Linked DNA regions of Homo sapiens. The protein of the gene in region 3 purifies or fractionates together with the protein of the main gene of each other region. This does not show direct contact. Each region holds a gene or a part of one and is shown on either strand. Other genes may lie near its edges. The genes, in order: SNX13, MTCH2, TSPAN1, TLCD2 and CSGALNACT2.

What was found.
Region 1: the proteins of TSPAN1 (region 3) and SNX13 purify together in Homo sapiens (affinity purification with mass spectrometry; one large-scale study listed by BioGRID and IntAct). This does not show direct contact.
Region 2: the proteins of TSPAN1 (region 3) and MTCH2 purify together in Homo sapiens (affinity purification with mass spectrometry; one large-scale study listed by BioGRID and IntAct). This does not show direct contact.
Region 4: the proteins of TSPAN1 (region 3) and TLCD2 purify together in Homo sapiens (affinity purification with mass spectrometry; one large-scale study listed by BioGRID and IntAct). This does not show direct contact.
Region 5: the proteins of TSPAN1 (region 3) and CSGALNACT2 purify together in Homo sapiens (affinity purification with mass spectrometry; one large-scale study listed by BioGRID and IntAct). This does not show direct contact.

Annotation. Positions count from the first base shown.
Region 1 is NC_000007.14:17,930,193-17,934,609, forward strand, and holds part of SNX13 (sorting nexin-13), read right to left. Parts: intron 1-4,417. UniProt on the Homo sapiens protein: May be involved in several stages of intracellular trafficking. May play a role in endosome homeostasis. Acts as a GAP for Galphas.
Region 2 is NC_000011.10:47,632,552-47,636,968, forward strand, and holds part of MTCH2 (mitochondrial carrier homolog 2), read right to left. Parts: intron 3,021-4,417; coding exon 2,994-3,020; intron 2,184-2,993; coding exon 2,121-2,183; intron 1-2,120. UniProt on the Homo sapiens protein: Protein insertase that mediates insertion of transmembrane proteins into the mitochondrial outer membrane. Catalyzes insertion of proteins with alpha-helical transmembrane regions, such as signal-anchored, tail-anchored and multi-pass membrane proteins.
Region 3 is NC_000001.11:46,180,739-46,185,155, reverse strand, and holds part of TSPAN1 (tetraspanin-1), read right to left. Parts: intron 4,057-4,417; 5' UTR 4,049-4,056; coding exon 3,992-4,048; intron 966-3,991; coding exon 759-965; intron 563-758; coding exon 488-562; intron 372-487; coding exon 273-371; intron 197-272; coding exon 41-196; intron 1-40. UniProt on the Homo sapiens protein: Structural component of specialized membrane microdomains known as tetraspanin-enriched microdomains (TERMs), which act as platforms for receptor clustering and signaling.
Region 4 is NC_000017.11:1,706,873-1,711,823, forward strand, and holds the start of TLCD2 (TLC domain-containing protein 2), read right to left. Parts: upstream 3,506-4,951; 5' UTR 3,371-3,505; coding exon 3,195-3,370; intron 3,015-3,194; coding exon 2,932-3,014; intron 2,710-2,931; coding exon 2,627-2,709; intron 1,351-2,626; coding exon 898-1,350; 3' UTR 1-897. UniProt on the Homo sapiens protein: Regulates the composition and fluidity of the plasma membrane. Inhibits the incorporation of membrane-fluidizing phospholipids containing omega-3 long-chain polyunsaturated fatty acids (LCPUFA) and thereby promotes membrane rigidity.
Region 5 is NC_000010.11:43,155,048-43,159,464, reverse strand, and holds part of CSGALNACT2 (chondroitin sulfate N-acetylgalactosaminyltransferase 2), read right to left. Parts: 5' UTR 4,316-4,417; coding exon 3,655-4,315; intron 751-3,654; coding exon 534-750; intron 142-533; coding exon of another isoform or gene 117-141; exon of another isoform or gene 101-116; intron 1-100. UniProt on the Homo sapiens protein: Transfers 1,4-N-acetylgalactosamine (GalNAc) from UDP-GalNAc to the non-reducing end of glucuronic acid (GlcUA). Required for addition of the first GalNAc to the core tetrasaccharide linker and for elongation of chondroitin chains.

The DNA.
Region 1 (4,417 bases), on a different chromosome or scaffold from region 3:
CTTAATACTTGCAACAACCCTATGAGGTCAGTACCATTCATTTATAAGTCACACATATAAGAAAACTGAGGCTCTGAAACGTTAGCAACCTTTCCAAGGTCAAAATGCTCGGAATCGAGAAAACTTAGATTCAAATCCAAATAATCTGACACCAGCCATCACTCTTAACCAAAAGTATACATTTTTATTCAGAAATTAGGAATATTTGGTTTGGGACTAGAGGAGATATATATACATATATAAAAAAGATGATTAACACTGAATCCTAGTATAAAGATAATCTTTCATCATCACATAAATTTTGTGTTAGTGCCTATTATATGATTGAATATTCTGAGCTGCTGTTATTAATTTCTGGAATTTCAGATTCATAAAATACATTTTTAATGCATCATAAAATACTCTCAAGTCTACTTGGTTTTTCTAAACCTTTATGCAACCAATACTCACTATTTGGAAAGTATATTATTTCAGTTTCTTTTCCTGTAACTTTGTGGTGTTCTGCCCTTCAACCCCTGGGCCACAGAGCATTACAGGTCCATGGCCCATTAGGAATCAGGCCGCACAGAAGGAGGTGAGCAGCAGGGGTTAGTGGCGGGGAGTGGGCTTTTCCACCTGAGCTCAGCCTCCTGTCAGATCAGCTGGGACATTAGATTCTCATAGGAGCACTACCCCTATTGTGAAGTGCACATGCAAGGATCTAGGTTGCATATTCCTTATGAGACTCTCATGCCTGATGATCTAAGGTGGAACAGTTTCATCCCGAAACCATTCCCCCCAACAGCCGTCCGTGGAAAAACTGTCTTCCACAAAACCGGTCCCTTGGTGCCAAAAAGGCTGGAGACTGTCATTGTAGCCCATTTATTTTACTCTCCTGACTCCCACCAGGATTAACACTATTGCAATACTTTAAGTGTTGAGCAGTTGGGTACCATACAAGAAAAAGATCAGATGTTAGTAATTAATACCACATGTAAAATAGCTGATTATATTAATAGTTGCAGTCTGAATTAAACACCAGTTGTGTTTCTCAGCTGAGAAAAATTCTGAGAAAACAAGCTATCTCAAACTCTGGAAGAGAACAAATTGCAAAATACAATATTACAGCTTGGAGAAACACTGGATAACACAATATCACATCTTAAAGTCAGAACATTATTTCCTAATATTTATGTAATAACAGAAATACGGTGAAATTTTATTTCACATTTAACTCTTCCACTAAAATTGTACAACTTCAGTTTTATAATTTCCAAACTTCACAGGACAATGAATCCAAAGGCCATTCTCCACAACTCTAGCTCGAAAATAAAAGAAATCACAAAACAAAGAATCACAACTCTTTCCTATGCTAAGCCAGTCAGGCTAAAAATAGCCCCCAAATTTCAGGTATAATACCAATTCAGGTTTAAATGGAATAAGAACCAAGGATTCTCCAACAATGCACAGCTAAGGTCAAGAGCAAAGCTGGATTCACCTTAGGGTCTTCACAGATGCATCAGAATAAAAAGATCCCTTAGGAAATCAGAGAAAACAGTGCAATAAGTAAACAATGGTGAATTATTCCAGTTAATATACATGATCCTCTCATAAGTATATTTACAGACCATTATTCTACTTGAACAGTGGAACAGAGCAGAATCATCTTATTGAACTTTTCTGGTATATATTATTTCTGAATATACAGTGGAATTACAGATGGGCAAACGACATAACAGTACTCTGTCTCCAACATTGAACAGAGACGCATTTTAGTTAAGAGACTGTGGTAGCAGCTGCCCTCCTTAAAAATGGACCCCCAAAATTTCCAACTTTGAAACCACGGCCAAATTTTTACTGATACTTACAAACTTTCAAGATAGCATCAAAGGTCATACAAATTGAAACAGTCAACAAAGTGCCATGAAAATCAGCATTATTGTACTATTACAGACAAAGCTTTCTTTAAATGTATCTAGTTTAGGAATTAAACTTTAAGTAATATTAATGAAATCATAATATCAAGTAGTAAGAGATACAAAACAAAATCCAAGTCCCTCTTGCATTTATAATTGGTTATATCAAAGTAACAACCTAATCAGATTTTTCCCTGTAGGAAAAATTAAGACAGAATTTCATTCCTAACTAAAAGCCTCAGGTTCAACTTTTTTTTGTCCCATTGCTCTTAAACACAATATTTAACCACAATGTACTTACTATATAAAATGTCTAATGAACAGATAGTAACCAATCCTTTAAGGGTAATTAATATGATGGTTTAAATTTATCACTGACAATTTCATCTCCGTAATTTTTCACTTTAATCTTAATTTTTCTTGAGGAAATATTCAACATTCATTCATTCAACAGATATTTAGTGAGGCCTACTAAGTATCAAGCTCTATTCTAGGCTCTGGGAGTACACCTATGAGGCCCATCCTCAGGAGTTTACTCTATTAGGGAAAAACATGTAACAAGCAAATAAATATATACATAACACATGGAGGTGGGAACAGCAGGATCAAGTACTACTTTCACCAGGTTGACTCTTCAATTGCAAGAAATCCATTTCAGAGCTGCTGTCTCATCCAAACTAGTAGATTTACCAGGAGTTGTAAAGCTAACCCAAGTCACAGTTATCTTTTAATTATATTCTCCAATCTTTTCCCCTCTTAACTTTTCACCCTTTAGTGGTATCATTTTATTCTGACAAAAGACCTCAAGGCTCCCACTTTGATGGCCTAAGTGGTACAATGCTAAATTTAGCGCTGATAGTGATTTCTGAGGACAGGTTTCCCAACTGACTCACCACTTCAACACTAGAACTTATCAGCATGTGCCTAGTACAAAGTAGGCATACTCTTGTTTGGTGAAGAAATCAATCCATAAAAATCAATCTCCAGCACGAGTTATAACAAAAGCCTTATAAACATTATCCTTAATAACAGCTTTTCAAGGATTTACCAAGTCTGATTAAAAATAAAAGATTTTTCTTCCCACAAATGTTTGGGAATATGTACAGACAAATGACTGGTAACCCTCAAATAAATCATCTTTTTCAAAACATTTTTTAGAACTTTGCTTTAAGGCGGCCGGGCCCAGTGGCTCATGCCTGTAATCCCAGCACTTTGGGAGGCCGAGGCGGGCGGAACATGACGTCAGGAGATGGAGACCATCGTGGCTAACCTGGTGAAACCCCGTCTCTACTAAAAACACAAAAAATTAGCCAGGCGTGCTGGCACGCGCCTGTAGTCCCAGCTAGTCAGGAGGCTGAGGCAAAAGAATCGCTTGAACCCGTGAGACAGAGCTTGCAGTGAGCTGAGATCGCGCCACTGCACTCCAGCCTGGGCAACAGAGCGAGACTCTGTCTCAGAAAAAAAAAAAAAAGAGAGAACTTGCTTTAAGGCATTCATTGAAATCGGTTTACCAACCACACAAGAAACTATCCCCTTTTTTCTCTTTCACTTCTTTTAGTCTATTCCCTGTCTCCCCTGTAACTGCACCACTAGCCAGGAGACTCCCCTCCTAATTTCCCCTCAGGACCCACCCACCTATCCACCAAGAAAATAGTGAGCAATAAAACTACATGGAGCCTAGGATTTACATTCATTAGTACAAGGAATATACAGAAAAAAAAAAAAACCCGATGTACTACCACTATTTCTATAATGACTGGCAATTTACAAAGTTATACCCTCCATCATCTTATATGATCTTCATAACAATGTAAGAACAGCAAGAAAGGTGCTATTACCCCAATTTTACACAGAAGGAAATTAAAAGCTTAGAAAGTTCAAACTAGTTCCCCAAAATCCCATCATAAATAAGTGATAAAGTTGAGACTCATCCCTTATAGTGCTTAACATACAGGTTTGTGTGTTGCCATATGTATAATTTGTTGATAGACACAGTATTTATCACTATCACTCCAGCCTATTTATTCATTTAATTCCAAATACTTTTAAAACGTTAAACAGTTTAAGAGCTATCTGCTTGCTTCAACGTTTCCTCTCCTTACACATATTTAAGGCTTTGTGACACCAAAATTAAACCTGACTCTGAAATAGAAAGTCAATTCCAGATTACAATCAATTGAGGAGGCACTTCATGGTCTATGAAACCACAAAATTTCAAAGCACAGTTTAAAAAGCCATAATCTGAGAACCTCATTCAGGGAAAGCTGTAAAGTCATTGTGGTGGATAATTTTAGATGTCAACTTGACTATATTAAGGAATACCTAAAAACCTGGTAAAGCATTCCTTTGGATGTGTCTGTGAGGATGTTTCCAGAGGAGACTGAGATTAGCATGTGAGTCTGAGTAGACTACCTGGAGGTCTGCCTTCCATGTGGGCAGGCACCACCCAATCTGCTGGGGGCCCAGAGATAACAAAAACAGAAAGAGGTATATCTACCAGAGCTGGGATACACTTTTCCACT
Region 2 (4,417 bases), on a different chromosome or scaffold from region 3:
GTTTCACCGTGTTAGCCAGGATGGTCTCGATCTCCTGACCTCATGATCCGCCCGCCTCGGCCTCCCAAACTGCTGGGATTACAGGCATGAGCCACCGTGCCTGGCCGGCTTTTGCATTTAAACAGTATCTTTATGGTCACTGAGTTTTTTCTTTTCTTTTTTTTTGAGACAGAGTCTTGCTCTGTTGCCCGGGCTGGAGTGCAGTGGTGCGATCTCAGCTTGCTGCAACCTCCACCTCCCAGGTTCAAGTGATTCTCCCGCCTCAGCCTCCTGAGTAGCTGGGATTACAGGCACACACCACCATGCCCAGTTAATTTTTTTTGTATTTTTAGTAGAGATGGGATTTCGCCATGTTGGCCAAGCTGGTTTTGAATGCCTGACCTCGTGATCTGCCCGCCTCAGCCTCCCAAAGTGCTGGGATTATAGGTGTGAGCCACCACACCCGGCCTAGTCACTGAGTTTTAAGACAGCCCTCACCCCTTCTCCAAGGGCATAAGATCCTATGGGACTGGATGGGCAAACTAAGGAAAATACTAATTGCATAGTAATACATGTATCCCTGCTTTTTTTTTTTTTTTGAGAGGGAGTCTCGCTGTCTCCCAGGCTGGAGTGCAGTGGCGCAGTCTTGGCTCACTGCAAGCTCCACCTCCCAGGTTCACGCCATGCTCTTGCCTCAGCCTCCCGAGTAGCTGGGACTACAGGCGCCTGCCACCATGCCCAGCTAATTTTTTTGTATTTTTCGTAGAGACGGGGTTTCACCGTGTTAGCCAGGGTGGTCTCAATCTCCTGACTTCGTGATCTGCCCGCCTCGGCCTCCCAAGGTGTTGGGATTACAGGTGTAAGCCACCACGCCCGGCCGTATCCCTGCTTTTAAGCAAACTAATTTCATGAAAATTTACAGAAAATAGAGCTAATTTATCTGGTTTCCAGACCTTTAGTAATGTTTGTTTTGGAATATATATATATATATATATATTTTTTTTTTTTTTTTTTTTTTTTCTTGAGATGGAGTCTCACTCCTGTGGCCCAGGCTAGAGTGCAATGGTGCAATCTTGGCTCATTACAACCTCTGCCTCCCGGGTTCAAGCCATTCTCCTGCCTCAGCCCCCCAAGTAGCTGGGATTACAGACATGCGCCACCATGCCTGGCTAATTTTTGTATTTTTAGTAGAGACGGGGTTTCTCCATGTTGGTCAGGCTGGTCTCCAACTCCCAACCTCAGGTGATCCGCCCGCCTCGGCCTCTCAAAGTGCTGGGATTACAGGCATGAGCCACTGCGCCCAGCCTTTGGAATATGTATTTTGGATGGCTGCATTTCCTGGATAATTGTGACTTCATTAATGACAATTAAGACAATGTGAAGACTTAAGTAATAAGAGAATAGTTCTGAAAGCCAGGCACAGAAACACCTATGGCAGCATATGGGGGTGGGAAATGGGTGATGAGGAACTTTTCAGAGTCAGAAAAATGTCAAAAGAGCCTTTCTGCATAGATACTATCCAACATACAAAGGGCCTGGTCGCTATTTTAATACTTTTTTCTAAAGACAAGGTCTTGCTCTATCACACAGGCTGGAGTATGGTGGCACAATCATAGCTCACTGCAGCCTCAACTTCCTGGGCTTAAGTCATCTTCTCACCGCAGCCTCTCGAGTACCTGGGACTACAGATATGTGCCACCACACACCTAGCTAATTTTTCTATTTTTTTTGTAGAGAGGAAGTCTCACTATGTTGCATAGGCTGGTCTCTAACTCCTGGGGTCAAGTGATCTTCCTGCCTTGGCCTCCCAAAGTGCTGGGATTACAGGCGTGAGCCACCACACCTGGCCTATTTTAACACTTTTATTCCTGAGGTTTTCAACACTATTAGAAGACTTTCAGTATTCTAAAGACGGAATGTGTGGGCAAAATGAGTTTTCTTGAAATGCATCTATTCTGAACAGCAAGCACTGATCCTCTCTCTTTTTAATGTTATACATGTAGTAAAGCCCAAATTAATTTGAAGGTTTAATTTCATTTGGGAACAGACACTGAACACACAGGCCTGATGATTCTGATTCCATAGTTGCAACACCACAGTTTGATCTGGGCAAACAGCACAGGATGTAATTCATCTCTTACCTCCTTGATAACGTGGTCAAAGGAAGATGAGACTTCTTTCTGTACATTTCCAGGTCCTAACTCCTGGAAATCAAAATCAAAGAAAATAGAGATCTTGATTTTTTTTTTTTTTTTTTTTTGAGACAGAGTCTCGCTCTGTCGCCCAGGCTGGAGTGCAGTGGCACAATCTCGGCTCACTGCAAGCTCCACCGCCTGGGTACAAGTGCTTCTCCTGCCTCAGCCTCCCAAGTAGCTAGGATTACAGGTGCTCGCCACCACGCCCTGCTAATTTTTGTATTTTTAGTAGAGACGGGGTTTCACCGTGTTAGCCAGGATGGTCTCGATTTCCTGACCTCGTGATCTCCACCTGCCTCGGCCTCCCAAAGTGCTGGGATTACAGGCATGAGCCACCATGGGCGGCCGATCTTGACGGTTTTTATTTCTTTTGAGATAGGGTCTCGCTCTGTCACTCACGCGGAGTGCAGTGATGTGATCATGGATCACTGCAGTCTTGACGTCCTGGACTCAAGTGATCCTCTCACCTCAACCTCCCATGTAGCTGAGATACAGAGGTATGTGCCACCAGGCCCCGCTAATCTTTGATTTTCTGTAGAGAAGGGGTCTATGTTGCCCAGGCTGGTCTCAAACTCTTAGATGCAAGTGATCCTCCCACCTTGGCCTCCGAAACTGCTAGGATTACAGGCATGAGCCACCATGCCCAGCCATCCTGATGGTTTCAAACAGAACTGTCCAAACTGGTGGCCACCCCATAGGACAACACTCACTGAGATGAATAGGAGACTGACTACTTGGCTTTTCTCCAAAAGAGGCCCCAAAAGCAGTAACAACTTGCAAGGGAAAGGCCCTCATGCTTAGAAATCAGCTCCAACATACCTCACCCTTGTCACTCTCCTGGTAATGCTATAGAAAAAAAGAAAAAGGATGATTAGGGTTATTACAGTGTCATGTGAAAGAAGACATAAAATGAAAACTCTACTGACAGAAAGTAAATTAGCTGAAGTTTTTTTTAAAGTTTTTGTTTTTTTTTTTAAGCTGCAAATCTTCAGTTAACTTCTACTCATTAATCAACTGGAAATATGGATCTCCAAGATAAACTTGTTGCTAAGTTTAACATATTGGTCAGTTGGAAGAAAAGCAAATGGTCATGAAAACTCTTCTTTGAAAAAAGAAAAGGGGACAGGTGTGGTTGCTCATGCCTGTAATCCCAGCACTTTAGGAGGCCGAGGTGGGCAGATCACCTGAGGTCAGGAGTTCAAGTCTAGCCTGGCCAACATGGTGAAACCCCATCTCTACTAAAAATACAAAAATTAGCGGAGCATTGGGGCGCACGCTTTTAATCCCAGCTCTTAGGGAGGCTGGGGCAGGAGAATCACTTGAACCCAGGAGGCAGAGGTTGCAGTGAGCCAAGATCACGCCACTGCACTGCAGCCCAGGTGACAGAGCAAGAGTCCGTCTCAAGAAAAAAAAAAAGAAAAGGGAAGGCTGGGTGCGGTAGCTCACGCCTATAATCTCAGCACTTTGGGAGGCCAAGGCAGGTGGATCACCTGAGGTTAGGAATTTGAGACCAGCCTGGCCTACGTGGTGAAACTCCATCTCTACTAAAAGTACAAAAATTAGCTGGGCTTGGTGGCGGGCGCCTGTAATCCCAGCTACTTGGGAAGCTGAGACAGGAGAATTGCTTGAACCCGGGGGGTAAAGACTGCAGTGAGCTGAGATCACATCACTGCACTCCAGCCTGGGCAACAGAGCAAGACTCCATCTCAGAAAAAAAGAAAAGGGGCCGGGCATGGTGCCTCACGCCTGTAATCCCAGCACTTTGCGTGGCTGAGGCAGGCGGATCACCTGACGTCAGGAGTTTGAGAACAGCCTGGCTGACATGGCGAAACCCCCTCTCTACTAAAAATACAAAAATTAGCTGGGCGTGGTGGTAGGTGCCTGTAATCCCAGCTACGTGGGAAGCTGGGGCAGGAGAATTGCTTGAACCCGGTAGGTGGAAGCTGCAGTGAGCCGAGACCATGCCATTGCACTCCAGCCTGGGCAACAAGAGTGAAACTCTGTCTCAAAAAAAAACAACAAAAAAACCCAAAAAACGAAAAGGGAACATGCGCAGTGACTCACGCCTGTAATCCCAACACTTTGGAAGGCCGAAGAGGGAGGACTGCTTGAGCCCAGGAATTCAAGACCAGACTGGGCAACATAGTGAGACTTTGTCTCTAAAAAAATAATAATAAATTTAAAGAAATAATTACAAAATAAGAACAACAACAAAAAAGAAAATTCAAGAACTCTGTTTTTTT
Region 3 (4,417 bases):
GCCATGAAAACAGTCCCCACCCACTCATGCCAGCCCACACCTCTACTTTTTGGTCGTGAGCCTTTTGCTTGGTGCAGGTTTCATTGGCTGTGTTGGTGACGTTGTCATTGCAACAGAATGGGGGAAAGGCACTGTTCTCTTTGAAGTAGGGTGAGTCCTCAAAATCCGTATAGTTGGTGAAGCCACAGCACTTGAGCTGGAGACAAGATGAGGGTGGAGGTGGGGCCTTGCTTCTTTCTCTCCACCCTAAAACCTCCCCCAGCCAACCTTACCCCTTTCATGGTGGTGTTCCACACTTGAGTGAAGTCTTCCTGGGAACCATAATCTTTCTTGATGGCAGGCACTACCAGCAACGTCAGGAAGTGCTCAGCCTGGGTGAGGCAGGCCAGTGTTTAGGGGCTGGTACAGAAGGTGGCCATTCACAGGCCACAGCCCACTCCCAGGGTTTTGCCCAATCTTCTTCCCTTCCTCCATCCCAGTGTCTCACCATTGTGGTGTACACCAAGGCGACCACAGCAGCTGCAACCTCAGCAATGAAGATGAGGAGGAGGATGAAGAAGAACTGAGTGGGGAACAGGGGTCTGGGTTTTAGGGAGAGACAGTCCCTCATGCCCTCCTTGCCCTAATCCCCCCCCCGGAAAAGTGAGACAGAAGCCTGAGCCTAGGGGGGTCCAAAGCAGGGTTTGGGAATCCCAGGGCCTGGTGTCAAGGGCGAGGGGACTCTTGGTCATCAGCCTGTGGAGCTGGGTTTCACACACCGTCACGAGGGCACACTTGCTCTCAGTCTTAGCACCATAGCAGCCCAGGAAACCAAGAGCAAAGACCACAACGCCGGCTGCGATGAGGAAGTAGCCCACGTTGACAAACTGCATGGCACTGGACGACAGTGGCCCGAAGATCTTCAGAAAGGATGCCCCATCGATTGACACCCAGATGCCCACTGCCAACAGGGCTGCACCACACAGCTGGGGAGAGAGAGGTCAGGCAGGCCTTAAACAGTGCTGGCAAGTAGCTTACTACCACACAGCTGAGTAAGAAGGATGGGAGCCGAGAAACTTCCCTCTTTATTGGCTAGGGAGTCTAAAACCTCATCCTGTAAGGAGGGAAACATCCTCTAGAGCCAGAAAAATGGGAGCTGGGATATGCATAGCTAGGACCAGGCTGCACACCTGGGCAGATATAAAGGAGATCAGGGGTTCTAGAAATATCCTCAGGGTGGGCAGAGGGGCAAGACTTTCCCTCACTGCTGCCAGGGTCCTGCCACATAGCTAGGATTGAAAACAGGCAGGTGAGGGCCCAGCCTCCTATTTCCTTTCTGGGCTATGGGTGCCTAGAACACCTCTGTCCTCTGATAGGTGGAGACGGGGGTGGTAGCAGAACAGGCTCAATAGTCACCATAGTAATGGAGGCGAGGCTGAGGTTCCACCTGCTGGCAACCTTGGAGAGGGAGGAGGTTGAGAAGGTTCACCCACCTGAGGCCCCATTTGGCTCCCCTCCAGAATCCAACTTCAGGCCCGCCCCTCATGTAGACAAGACCTCCTTGCCTCACAAGAGGAAAGTGAGGTACCAGTGGGAATACAGCCAGAGCTTCTCTTAAAGGCTGTCTAGCTCAACTCCAAACCTCAGGGGGAATTCTGAGGCCTAGATTGAGGAGGGCCCTGCGCAGTTCCCACAGATCTTAGAGGAAAGCCTCCCGGCCCAGGGCTTCAGTGGATGAATCAGCCTGACACCACCTTGGTGACTAGTCCTCACTTGCCAGCTATAAAAACTGAGGCTAGAACGGGAAGTGAGGTGGCAGATTGTGGCTGGATTCCAGGCATGTTTGCCCAAGGACAGAAAGCTGGACTTCTAGCCTGCAGGGTCAAATTTCATGGAGCTGGAGGTCTGCCCTATCCTGCTTTGCCCAGCCTGGCAAGGTCTGGGTAACAGAGGCCAGAAATCAAACCGGATTTGCCTTTAACCCTCTCAGGGCAGAGCCTCTCCTGTCCAAATCCCTGGAATCCTATTGCTTCCTCCAGATACAGGGATAAAGACTAGTTCAGGACTGGCACAGTGGCTCATGCCTGTAATCCCCGCACTTTGGGAGGCAGAGGTGGGAGAATCACTTAAGTCCAGGAGTTCGAGACCAGCCTGGGCAATATAGTGAGACCGCCTCTACAAAAAAAATTTTTTTTAATTAGCTGAGCATGGTGGCACACTCCTGTAGTCCTAGATACTCAGGAGGCTGAGTGAGGTAGGGGAATCCCTTGAGCCCAGGAGGTTGACGCTGCAGTAAGCCATGATCATGCCACTGCACTCCAGCTTTGGTGACAAAGCAAGATCCTGTCTCAAAGAAACAAACAACAACAACAACAACAACAAAAACACAAGTTCCCTGCAGCCGAAGGAAGCCCAAGGCACAGACCACATCAGAACTAGAGAGTCTACCCACGCTTCTAAACTAATCAATACATACATAAACTCTGTCGCCCAGGCTGGAGTGCAGTGGTGTGATCTTGGCTCACTGCAACCTCCGCCTCCTGGGTTCAAGTGATTGTCCTTCCTCAGCCTCCCAAGTAGCTGGGATTACAGGCATGCGCCACCACATCCAGCTAATTTTTGTATTTTTAGTAGAGACGGGGTTTCACCATATTGGCCAGGCTGGTCTCGAACTCCTGAGCTCAACTAATCTGCCCGCCTCAGCTTCCCAGAGTGCTGGGATTACAGTTGTGAGCTACTGCACCTGGCCCACTTCCTCACTTTCACTTACACTAACCTACTCTAATGTGGTTAGTGTACTACTCTCCTTGTTTTCCTCTCCCCCTCCCACTGCTCCTTCTCCATCTCCTTCACAGTGGCTTTTTTTTTTTTTGCTTATCCCTAATAAATTGGGTTTCCCAGAGTTCACTTTCCAAGTGTTCTCATCCACTCCCATGGCTTCAGTGGCTACCTGTGCGCACATGATTTTCAAATACCCATGGCCAGCTCCAATCTGAGCTGCACCTCCACTGGGTACACATCTGCTAGTGGGACACCCCTTCCCACAAACCAGGCCCCACCCCCTGCCATCTGGGTTGCTCATGCCAGAGATATGGGCGTCATCTCCAAGACCTCTGTCTCCCTTGCCCCTTCTTCTACCCCTCAGCCATCATCCTAGAGCTTTGTCCTTTGTCCACTTTGTCCGTTTCTCCCTATCTCCACCACCATCTCCAGGATTTACGCCTCATGGCTCAGCTTCTCAAACATGCCCTATGCAATCTGTTTCTGGTTTTCTGAACGATATCAAGTTTCACTACTTCTGGCCCTTTATGCATGCTTTATAACTCCCCCACCAAGTGCAATTTCCCAGCTTCAGCTATTTCCTCCAGGAAGTATTCTCCAACCAGGCTGAGTTCAGGCTCCCATAACCTCCGTCCTAAGCCCAAACACACTGTGTTGTTATTATCTGCCTATCTGGCTTATCGGAGCTGAGATCCTTCAGGGCAGAGAAAGGCTTTGCTTACCTGCCACCCCAGCACCCATCATGGTATCCTAGACAATGAATGTTTGTCGAATGAATAAGGACTGTTGCTCTGATGAGAGGTAGGCCCTCCCTCCTTTCAGCTCCCCGTCATACAGAAGAATTTCCTCTGTACTGAATTTCCTTCTGTGGTAGGTAAACTTGGGTGGAGCCCTTCTATTTTCTGGGCCCCCAGTGCCTATAAAGGGTGGAGAATCATTCCTGGTAGCTTACTCTGCCCTGCCTGAAGCCTAGGCTAAAGCTTTGTAGGAGAGAGGGGGTGCCCCTAGCTTCTCCATCCCCTTTTTCACACACGCACCTGTATGGCAGCCTGGCTGCTGCTGGGACTAGGAATCAGCAGCATTTGGGGAGACCTTTGCATCCCACTCATAAGGGGACACATGCAGGACGAAGCCTGGGCATAGCAGTCTCCCATTCCCCAGCTTAGTCTCTACTCAGCTTGTGACCTGCTCCTATAGGGAGCCCCAAAGAGTCCACAATGTCCGTACTTACAAAGATGAGCAAATTGAAGAGGATCATCATGGTCTTAATGAAGCTGAAGCACTGCATGGTGGCTCCTGGGAGGTAGACATGTGCAAGTTAGGGCCTTGTTTCCCCTGGGCCCACCTGGGCTGGCCCTGGCTTCAGATATTCAGCCAGATATGCCAGACCCCAGGATCCTGAACCCATATCTCACCAAGCTTCTCCTGTACCTGGTCTGACACAGACCTTTTCCCAGTTTCTATCCTAACACCCTTACCCCTCTATACTACCCAGGACCTCCACCAGCACCTGACACTCTGAGATCCTAACACCCCAGGTTCCTCCACCTGCACACCCAGCCTGACTCCCACACTGCAGGTCACTCCATGCTCTTTCCTAGCACCTGTATATCCTGTGCTCCCCCCCACACTAACCCCAGACCCTCCCAGAACCCTC
Region 4 (4,951 bases), on a different chromosome or scaffold from region 3:
GAGAAAAACAGGAGTGTGCGCCTGTTCTCACGTCTGTAATCCCAGCACTCTGGGAGGCCGAGGCAGGTGGATTACTTGAGGTCAGGAGTTCGAGACCAGCCTGGGCAACATGGTGAAACCTCCTCTCCACCAAAAAATACAAAAATTAGCTGGGCTTGGTGGTGCATGCCTGAAGTCACAGCTACTCGGGAGGCTAAGGCAGGACAATCACTTGAACCCAGGAGGCTGAGGTTGCAGTGAGCCGAAATCGTGCCACTACACTCCAGCCTGGGTGACAGAGTAAGATTCCGTCTCATAAAAAAAAAGAAAAAGAAAAAGAAAAACAGGAGTGTGGCTTTGAGAACCAGAAACATCAGCAGCAATTGCTGTGGCCCAGGTTCTGTCTCTTGGCAACTATCACGTCCATCTCTGCTGCTACAGATAGCACCTCCTCTACCTTCCTCCCACTGCCAGAATTTGGTTATAGGTGAGATCTCTTTTCTCTCTGTCCCCACCCGCCCCATACCAGATCTCTCTGATCCTAGTGGGACTTCACCTTCCCCCATCTGTCCCTGGGTTAAAGCAAAGAGCTTCTGTCTCCACTGGCAGTTTCTTCCAGCTGCATGCCTCCTGCCACCCTTTACTGATAGCTCTAGCTGTACCTCTTGAGTTTATTTGCTGGAAAGGATGCTCATCTGATGACGGATTTCAGTGAACAGAAACCCAGGTTCCCACCCATCCAACATCAGCATTTCTTCTTAGATCCGAGGAAGGGGAAGGGATGTGAGTTAGCTGGAAGAGAAACTGAGATTCTGATGAGCAAGTCTGGCCCTCACCCTGATGGGGGACTGTGCATGGAAGACCCTCATCTCCTTGTCCTGGCCCCACCTCCCCCAGCGAGGGGCCCATGGCTTCTCTCTAGTCTTTCAGGCTGAGAGTCGAACTGTTGCTGGTGACAGGTCCATTGTCACGACGTGTCCTGGTCCCCCTGGTTTTCTCATGGCCAGGGCTGGGTGGATGGGGTCGAGACTGTAGGACATCATTGACCAGAATACGGATCCCCAATATGATGCTCATGATGCCCACAGTGACCAGCCCAATTCCACCCAGGGTGACCAGAGCAAGAGGAACCTGGTGGTGCTGCCGGAACAGCCACAGACTCATCCACCCCAGCGGGACCAGGCGGAAGAGGGCCAAGGTGGCCAAGGAGGCCCAGCTGGTCACGCTGAAGGCCAGGGATGGGGCCTGGCGAGAAAGCAACAGCAGCTTCCGCAGGTGCAAGCAGGCAGAGTTCAGTTCCAGGAGCAGAGACACCATGGAGAAGCCCACGTAGTGGCCAGACAGAACAGCGGTGCTGAGGCAGCTCACCACCTGGGAGCCAGGGTCACAGGTCAGAGGAACCCCATGACCTGCCAGCCATCATGTCCCAATAACCCAGGCCTGAAGAAAGAGGCTTCCACGCAGTCTGTGGGGCTCCCCAAACACCTGACCTTTATGCTTTTACCTTTATCCTGGGGCCCTGAGCAGCCTTGAAACAACCCTTCCATAGATGGAACCAGGCTTGGCCCAGGGAGGGGCTGTCTCACCCCCTAATACCCCCTTAACCTCCCATTCCTGGGCTTGCTTGCTTTTTTTTTTTTTTTTTTTTTTTTTCGAGACAGACTCTCACTCTGCCACCAGGCTGGAGTGCAGTGGTGTGATCTTGGCTCACTGCAACCTCTGCCTCCTGGGTTCAAGCAATTCTCCTGCCTCAGCTTCCAGAGTAGCTGGGACTACCGGTGCGCGCCACCACACCCAGGTAATTTTTGTATTTTTAGTAGAGACGGGGTTTCACTGTTAGTCAGGATGGTCTCGATCTCCTGACCTCGTGATCCACCCGCCTCGGCCTCCCAGTGTGCTGGGATTATAGGCATAAGCCACCGTGCCTGGCCTAGGGCTTTCATGCCCCATACCCACACCCTATACCAGGACACCCCCTTCTCAGAAAAGCTCCATATTCCACATTTCTGTGATCAGCTGGACACCTGTGGGGGCACCCAAACTCCTTAGGCTCACATGGTGGGTGCCCTGGCATGGTGGGTGCCCTTGTATGGTGAGTGCCCTGGCATGGTAGGTGCCCTGGCCTGGTGGGTATCTGGACTCCCCAGCTGTGGCCAGCAGCCACCTCCTCCCCCTAACTCAGCCTAAGACTGGGAGCCAAGCACCAGCTGGGGGCAGAGACTGTGGGAAATTATAGGACAGCAAAATGAAGAGAGGGCCGGGGGCGGTGGCTCATGCTTGTAATCCCAGCACTTTGGAAGGCTGAAGTGGGCGGATCACCTGAGGTCAGAAGTTCGAGACCAGCCTGGCCAACATGGAGAAACCCCGTCTTTACTAAAAATACAAAAAATTACTTGGGCGTGGTGGCGGGTGCCTGTAATCCCAGCTACGTGGGAGGCTGAGGCAGGAGAATTGCTTGAACCCAGGAGGCGAAGGTTGCAGTGAACAGAGGCCGAACCACTGGACCCCAGCCTGGGTGACAGAGTGAGACTCCGTCTCAAAAAAAAAAAAAAAAAAAAAAAAAAAGAATGAGGAGAGACTGGGAACCTCGGGCTGGACAGGGCTCCCCTCCTCCCTTCCTGTCTGGCTTCTGCCCTCAGAGTCTCACCACCAAATGATGACAGAGAAGATCCCAGGTCTTGCCCAAGGTCTGGTTCCACAGCAGGTCAGCTCCGTCTGCCAGGAAGTAACCTGTGGGCATGGGGGTAGGGGTTAGGCTGCTCCAGAGCCCGGGCAGCTTAGAGAGGATTTCCAGCCCCCCCGCCCCGCCCCTCTCCCAGTTCTTAGTTTTCCCTTGGTAAAGCCTTCAGGAACGTTTAACCCCCATGGGGGCGGGGAATGGACCTGGAAGGACAGCAGAACCTGCCCCCCGCCCCATCCCCACCACCGGCCCAGCCTTCCCTGCAGACTCACCCACAGACACAGCCACCAGCACCAGAGCCCAGCGCGGGTGGCCATGGATGGGGTCGGCGGCCATCTGAGGGTACAGTGACAGGCTGGGGGCATGGGGTGGGGACATGGGGGGGGGCATGGTCAGCCTCTCGAGGCCCCGGCCGCAGTCTCCCTGTGCGCACCCCCACCCCAGTCTCAGCTCTGGAGACGCCCGGCGGGTCTCCCGGCCTCAGCCTCCCACCCCTCGCCCTCGCCCCGTGCGCCTCGAGCCCCCAAGCCCGCACCCGAGCAGCGCCCCGGTCCCCGAGAGCAGGCTGTGCGCCAGGGAGACGCAGAGGTTCCACCACTGCCAGCGGTCCCGAGCGGCCGATTCCGGCGTGGGCAGCCGCCGCAACCCCCAGTGCAGCCCCCGGAACGCGAGGAAGGAGGCGCCGGCCACCAGGAGCCCCGTGGGCGCCATGGCCTGGCGGTTGGGGGGTTGCGGGGAGTCCGGGTCGGTCCCCTCGGCGCCCGCGCTCTCGGCCGGGACTGGGAACCCGTTTCCCGGCAGGGCTGGGGCCCCGGCTCCCCTCCCCGCCGCGCCTTTGGGATCAGCAGGAACTTTTCCCCGTTCGTCCACGCCCAGTCCCTCGCCTGGGCGGTGATTGGAGCAGCCGCGGGGCCGCCGCCCCCGGAGCCTTGGCCACCGATTGCGTCTTGCTCCAGCCGGGGGAGCGGTTCGGGGGCTCCGGGCAGTAGACCATGCCCTGGAGCTCGGGGGGCCTCCGGGATGTTCGCCAATAGGGGTCCTCCCCAGCTCCAAGCGTCCTGAAGCGCTGGAGTTGCAGACCTGGGTCTCCAGTCTAACCTCAACTGACACTCCCGGGCCCCACCCACGAACCTTGACCTCTTCCCGGCTCCCGCGACTTTCACCTGCTGAGCGTCATCACCACCCACCGCCACACCCTGCAAGGCAGAGGCTAGCGCAGCCCACTCGTACCTGCCCGAGCCTGGCCGCCGCCCCCACTTCCCTCCCCGCGTCCGTGGTGGGGACGGGGTGCCCCACTTTCTTGGAGCCACCCCTTCGGCCTCCTGAGGTTTCCACGCCTTTACCATATCCCGGCAAACCTGTAATTCCAGCAGTTCTGCTCCCCCTCCCCCACAACCCCCAGGAGACCCCATGTTGGAGAAGCGACCCACTGGGCCCCGCCCCGACCCCCAGCATTGTTTTCGGCCCTACGGAGGAGCCTCATTAGGAAGAGGACGCAAAAGGGAATCGCTGGCCCCCAGTCTTGAAAAGCACTTCCTTCCCCAAGGGCTTGGTACCCGTTGGGTGGGTAGAATATCTTCAATCCGAGGGCAAGGAAAGGTAACACAGGGTCCCTTCAAGGCTGGGACAGAGTCAGAAGAGAAAAACAGACCTGTCCTGCTCTTAGTAGCAGGGCGGTTAGGATTCCAGAACCCTCCAGCCTTAAGAGGAAGAGCCTCCCCCAGCCCCTCACCACCTGAAGAGCCCCAGGTTGCACTGCTTTCCTTCCACCTTACTCCACTCCACCTCTTCAGCTGGCAGACAGTCAGCAAGTCAGAGCTGTTTCCTGCAGGCTGAGAGGGAGGATTCCAGCTACTTCAAAGAATTAAGTTCATAAACCAAGAGGTGCCCCAACCAAACCTTCTCACCAAAAAGCTGAGGTCTTCCCTTCATTCTTCTACCCCCACCTCTCCAAAGGTTTAAATAATAACACTGATCTCTTAAATTATATTATATGAAATACAAAATGTGGAAAATTTGGAAATTACAGAAAAACCAAAGATGAAAATTACAGTGACTTTGTTCCACCATACAAAGATAACCACTCAACATTTTTTAGTATGCCTTCCGTCTTTTTTATCTGCTCTACGTATACAAGCATACACCCATATTTTAAAAAACAAAATTGAAATCACATAACATGCACTATTTTTACAACCTTTTAATATTCAAGGAGCATTTTTCTTTCAGTCAGATGTTCTTTTACATGACTTTTAATGTCTGCGCGGTACTCCACCATCTGGATGGAGATAC
Region 5 (4,417 bases), on a different chromosome or scaffold from region 3:
AGAATAAAAAAGATGGCATGCACCTGTGGTCCCAGCTACTTGGGAGGTTGAGGCAGGAGGATCACTTGAGCCCAGGAGGTTGAGGCTGCAGTGAACTGTGCTCACTCCACTGCATTCTAGCCTGGGTGATAGAGTGAGACCCTGTCTCAAAAAAAAAAATAAAAATAAAAAAAGAGTCATGATACCTATATCCTTAAAATATGTGGATTTTACTGCATGTAAATTATTCCTTAGTAAAGTTGATTTTTTAAAAATTCAACTTGTCTTAAAATGAATTCAAAACAATTATCAAGGCCATCAAATTTAGTTTCTAATAGGTGTCACTCTTAATTTATTTCATAGTTCAAATTGTCTATAACACAATATACTACACATGCTTTAAAAAAAGAGAGAATATAAAAAAATAAAGTTCCCCTAAAGCCTGTAAAATTATTCTAAGTAATTATAATCGGTGAAGATAAATTAAGGAAATCTGAGTAAAACGTGATTTTTTTTAGGAGAATGTAGCTTAATCATTAAGCCCTGACAGTTACCTGAAGTTCTGCATAAATTGTACAAATGCTTCAGTTCTTTCAGCAAGTGGCACAATGATATTAATAATTGATCTAGTGATGTCAATCATCTCACTCTTCACTTTCATGAGAGGTCCAAAAGGGCGGAAGAGGGTCACATGTCTATATTCCGTAAGGTCTGCTTTCTTAAAAAAGAGTTCATACTGTGTGCCCTTATCTCTCTCAGTGCGATAATAACCTAAAGGAAAGAGTTAGGAACAAAGACGTCTCCATGTCAAAGTTTACAAATTCAATGGGAAGACAGATTTTACTCACTTAAACATAAAGGGTATTAAACTAGACCTGCAGGATTTTTACCTATTTGTGAAAATACTTATCCCCACTGCACAGTAACAATTACTCGCTTAAAAGAAAAGGTTAAAAAAAAAGTTCACTGTTCTGTTATTTTATTCAATCTATAAAATATACTACAAATGACAATTGTTCCTTTTTACATACGACTTTTTAAAAATACTAGAGCCTATCAATATGGTAATCATGATAAATAAAGAAATTACTTCTAGCAATATTAAAATCTAGACCCAAGAGCCAAAATTTCTATTGGTTTAGGTCAACTAAAAGAAATCGAGTGCCTTCGTGTCAGTTATGTGATACAAAGAGTGCCACATGGTCTCAATTTTGAGGACAGGGCCAGTCTAGTGAAGGAGACAGAAAAATAGACAAATAATAACAATATAGTGCTATGTGATATATATATATATCTGTATATATATATGTGTGTATACATACATACATATAAAATCACTGACTAGAGTGAAGTCAAAGAAAAATTGGTACAGATTTAAACACAGTGATTTGAGATGCCTTTGAGAGAAAAGCATGCGCATCTACGAGGCAATCTGATTTTTTTTTTTTTTTTTTTTTTTAGACGGAGTCTCACTCTGTCACCAGGCTGGAGTGCAGTGGTGCAATCTTGGCTCACTGCAACCTCCATCTCCCGGGTTCAAGCAATTCTTCTGCCTCAGCCTCCCAAGTAGCTGGGACTACAGGCGTGTGTCACCACGCCCAGCTAATTTTTGTATTTTTAGTAGAGACGGGGTTTCACTATGTTGGCCAGGATGGTCTTGATCTCTTGACCTCATAATCTGCCCACCTCGGCCTCCCAAAGTGCTGGGATTACAGGAGTGAGCCACTGCGCCCAGTGGCAATCTGATTTTTAAGTATGGCGCTCAGGAGAGAGAAGAAGGTTAGACCTACAGATGTGTGAGTCACTCAGTAAATATCTGGGTATAAAATGGTGAATAAAATAGACTTGGTCCCAACCCTCCTGAGGCTTACACTTTAGTAGGAAGCACAAACCAGGAAATGGGCAATGCCACATACTGTGACAAGCAGTATGAATGTACAGGTGACAAGAGCACACAGAAGTACTGCTGTCTTAGACCTGAGGTTGCAGATGACTTCTCAGAAGAAGTGATATCTGAGCTAAAGTTTAGAAGAGGGATAGGAATTAGTTGTCATTACTAATTATTAGTAATTATTCTCCCTGCAGTGGGCAGACAGTGGCACAGTAGAGGAAAAGTGAGGAACAGAATATGTTCCATTTAGAGAAAAATCCTGAAGTATCAGAATCCAAGGAGAGTTATAAGACAAAAGCAGGAGCTGCAGAATATAAAACTGGCACAGCTCCCTTTCTTTTTAGGTAGAGCTGATGTGAGGACATTTTACACATGTTACTTAGTTATCTTATTTCCTCCGCAGCTTCCAATTCTGCCATAAGCTACAAACATACAGTGAGAAGACAAAAAGCTGAGCTTGCAGAAAAATCAGAAGAGTTTTGAGAAAAATAATCCATCAAAAATGGCAGGAAGTGACAGCAGAAAAAAGAGGAGGCCACAAGGAAAGGCAGCTGCAATGCCACTGCAAAGCATAATGCCCTCCCTGATGGCCTCCAAGGGCCTCAGTGTATTATAATAATGCTACAGTGCAGCAAGTGATGGCCATGATGATTTGGAGTCAAAAAGTCTACATGTGCTATACGAGGGGTCCCTAACCCCCAGGCCACAGACCGCTACTGGTCCGTGGCCTGTTTGTTGGGAACTAGGCGGCACAGCAAGAGGTGAGTGATGGGAGCCTGGCAAGCATTACCGCCTGAGCTCCGCCTCCTGTCGGATCAGTGGCTGCACTGGATTCTCAAAGTAGAGCAAACTCTGTTGTGAACTGCACATGCAAGGAATCTACACTGCACGCTCTTTATGAGAATCTAACTAATGCCAGATGATCTGAGGTGGAACAGTTTCATCCCAAAACCATCCTCACCATCCCATGGAAAAATTGTCACCCATGAAACCAGTCCCTGGTGCCAAAAAGGCTGGGGACCACTGTGATAACACAGTTTATAGAATCAAGCAAAGAGAACTTTCAAGAAACATTTATTTTTAAAATGGTTTAAGTCAGCAATTAAATGTCTAGCAGTGAGTGTAAAGGAGATGGGTAGGGATCTAGAATTATTACTGTTAATATCAATCAATATCTTAAATTTTATAGCAGTGTTCTTCAACCTCTGAGTCACATCCCATCTTGATACATAAAAATTCCATACCCTTTCTGAAATATGTATTAGGAAAACAGGTATTTCCTTACTTTTCCAAATGCCAAATGTGCTTTTTAAACTATGTATAACCCCTTGTTCAGACATGAGCTTCTCCTTCCTCCAATACGAAAAATAGCTAAGAGTCTACTAATTTTTTCTTTCCTTTATCAAATGGTTTTCAAGTTTTGAGTTTTAGTTTACACATTTTTTAAAAACATAAAAAAGAACACCAAGATCAGGTAAGTGAGGAATATAAATCATACACATGCAACAAGAGCTGTTTTATTCTATTTCCCTAGTCCTTATTCTCCATTTTTATTATGATCTCATACCTTTTTCCAGAAGGCCACTTAAAATTCTTGGTGCAATGAAGTGCAAAAACTTTCAGTGTTTTAATACTGTGGATAATGACTGACTTATATTACTAACATTTGTCTACAATACAATACTAGCATTTGTCTACAGTACAATACTACAATACAATACCAGCATACAATACTAGCATTTGTCTTACTAACATAATATTGACCAACATATTTTTCACATTACCTTCTACGAAGTCATTTTCATTAAATATCAGTTTCTCTCCAAGGGGACCCTCCTCATCTTCTTGTTCATCATCTTCATCAGGATTATTAATGACCTCCAAGCCCGCTTCAATAACTTCCACCAATTCATCTCGTTTGTCTTTTCTAACTGGCTTTTCTTCAGGATGGCGAGTGAGACCCATTTCCAATTGAAATACTTTCATTAAGGTAAAACTTTCAAAGGGAATGACCCCATACTCACTGGGTAGTTTGGCCCCTATGCTAACTTCAGCTTTGTCAATTTGGGAATGAAGAAACTCTAAAAGATCACTAGGTGCTTGCTCTTTGTTGCTCTGATAGCCTATGCCATTAGCCCCTACATTCCTTCTTTCTTGCAGTGACCGCATCTTCTCACTCATTTCTTGTAATTCTTGTTTTAGTTGGGCAATTTGGCGTTTCAGACTGGTTGCCCTGGTCTGATAATGTTCTTCTTGTTCCTGTAGGAGGGCTTGATAATACTCTTTACCATAATTTTCCCCAACAACACCAGGAAGAGATGCATTTCCATCAGTCTGGGGGGCACATTCCAGGAGGTACATAAATAATACCAAACTGCAGAGCAAAGCAAGGCCCAACAGCAACCAGTGGGTCCGGGTGTGAAGAATCAGTCCTCTTCTAGGCATTCTTATTAATGTGTATTTGCCTAACAAAATAAGCTCTTTGTGTGTTCATACCTTTAGTAAAAAGTTATCAAAAATTAAAAACAAAATCAGAATTTCCATAAA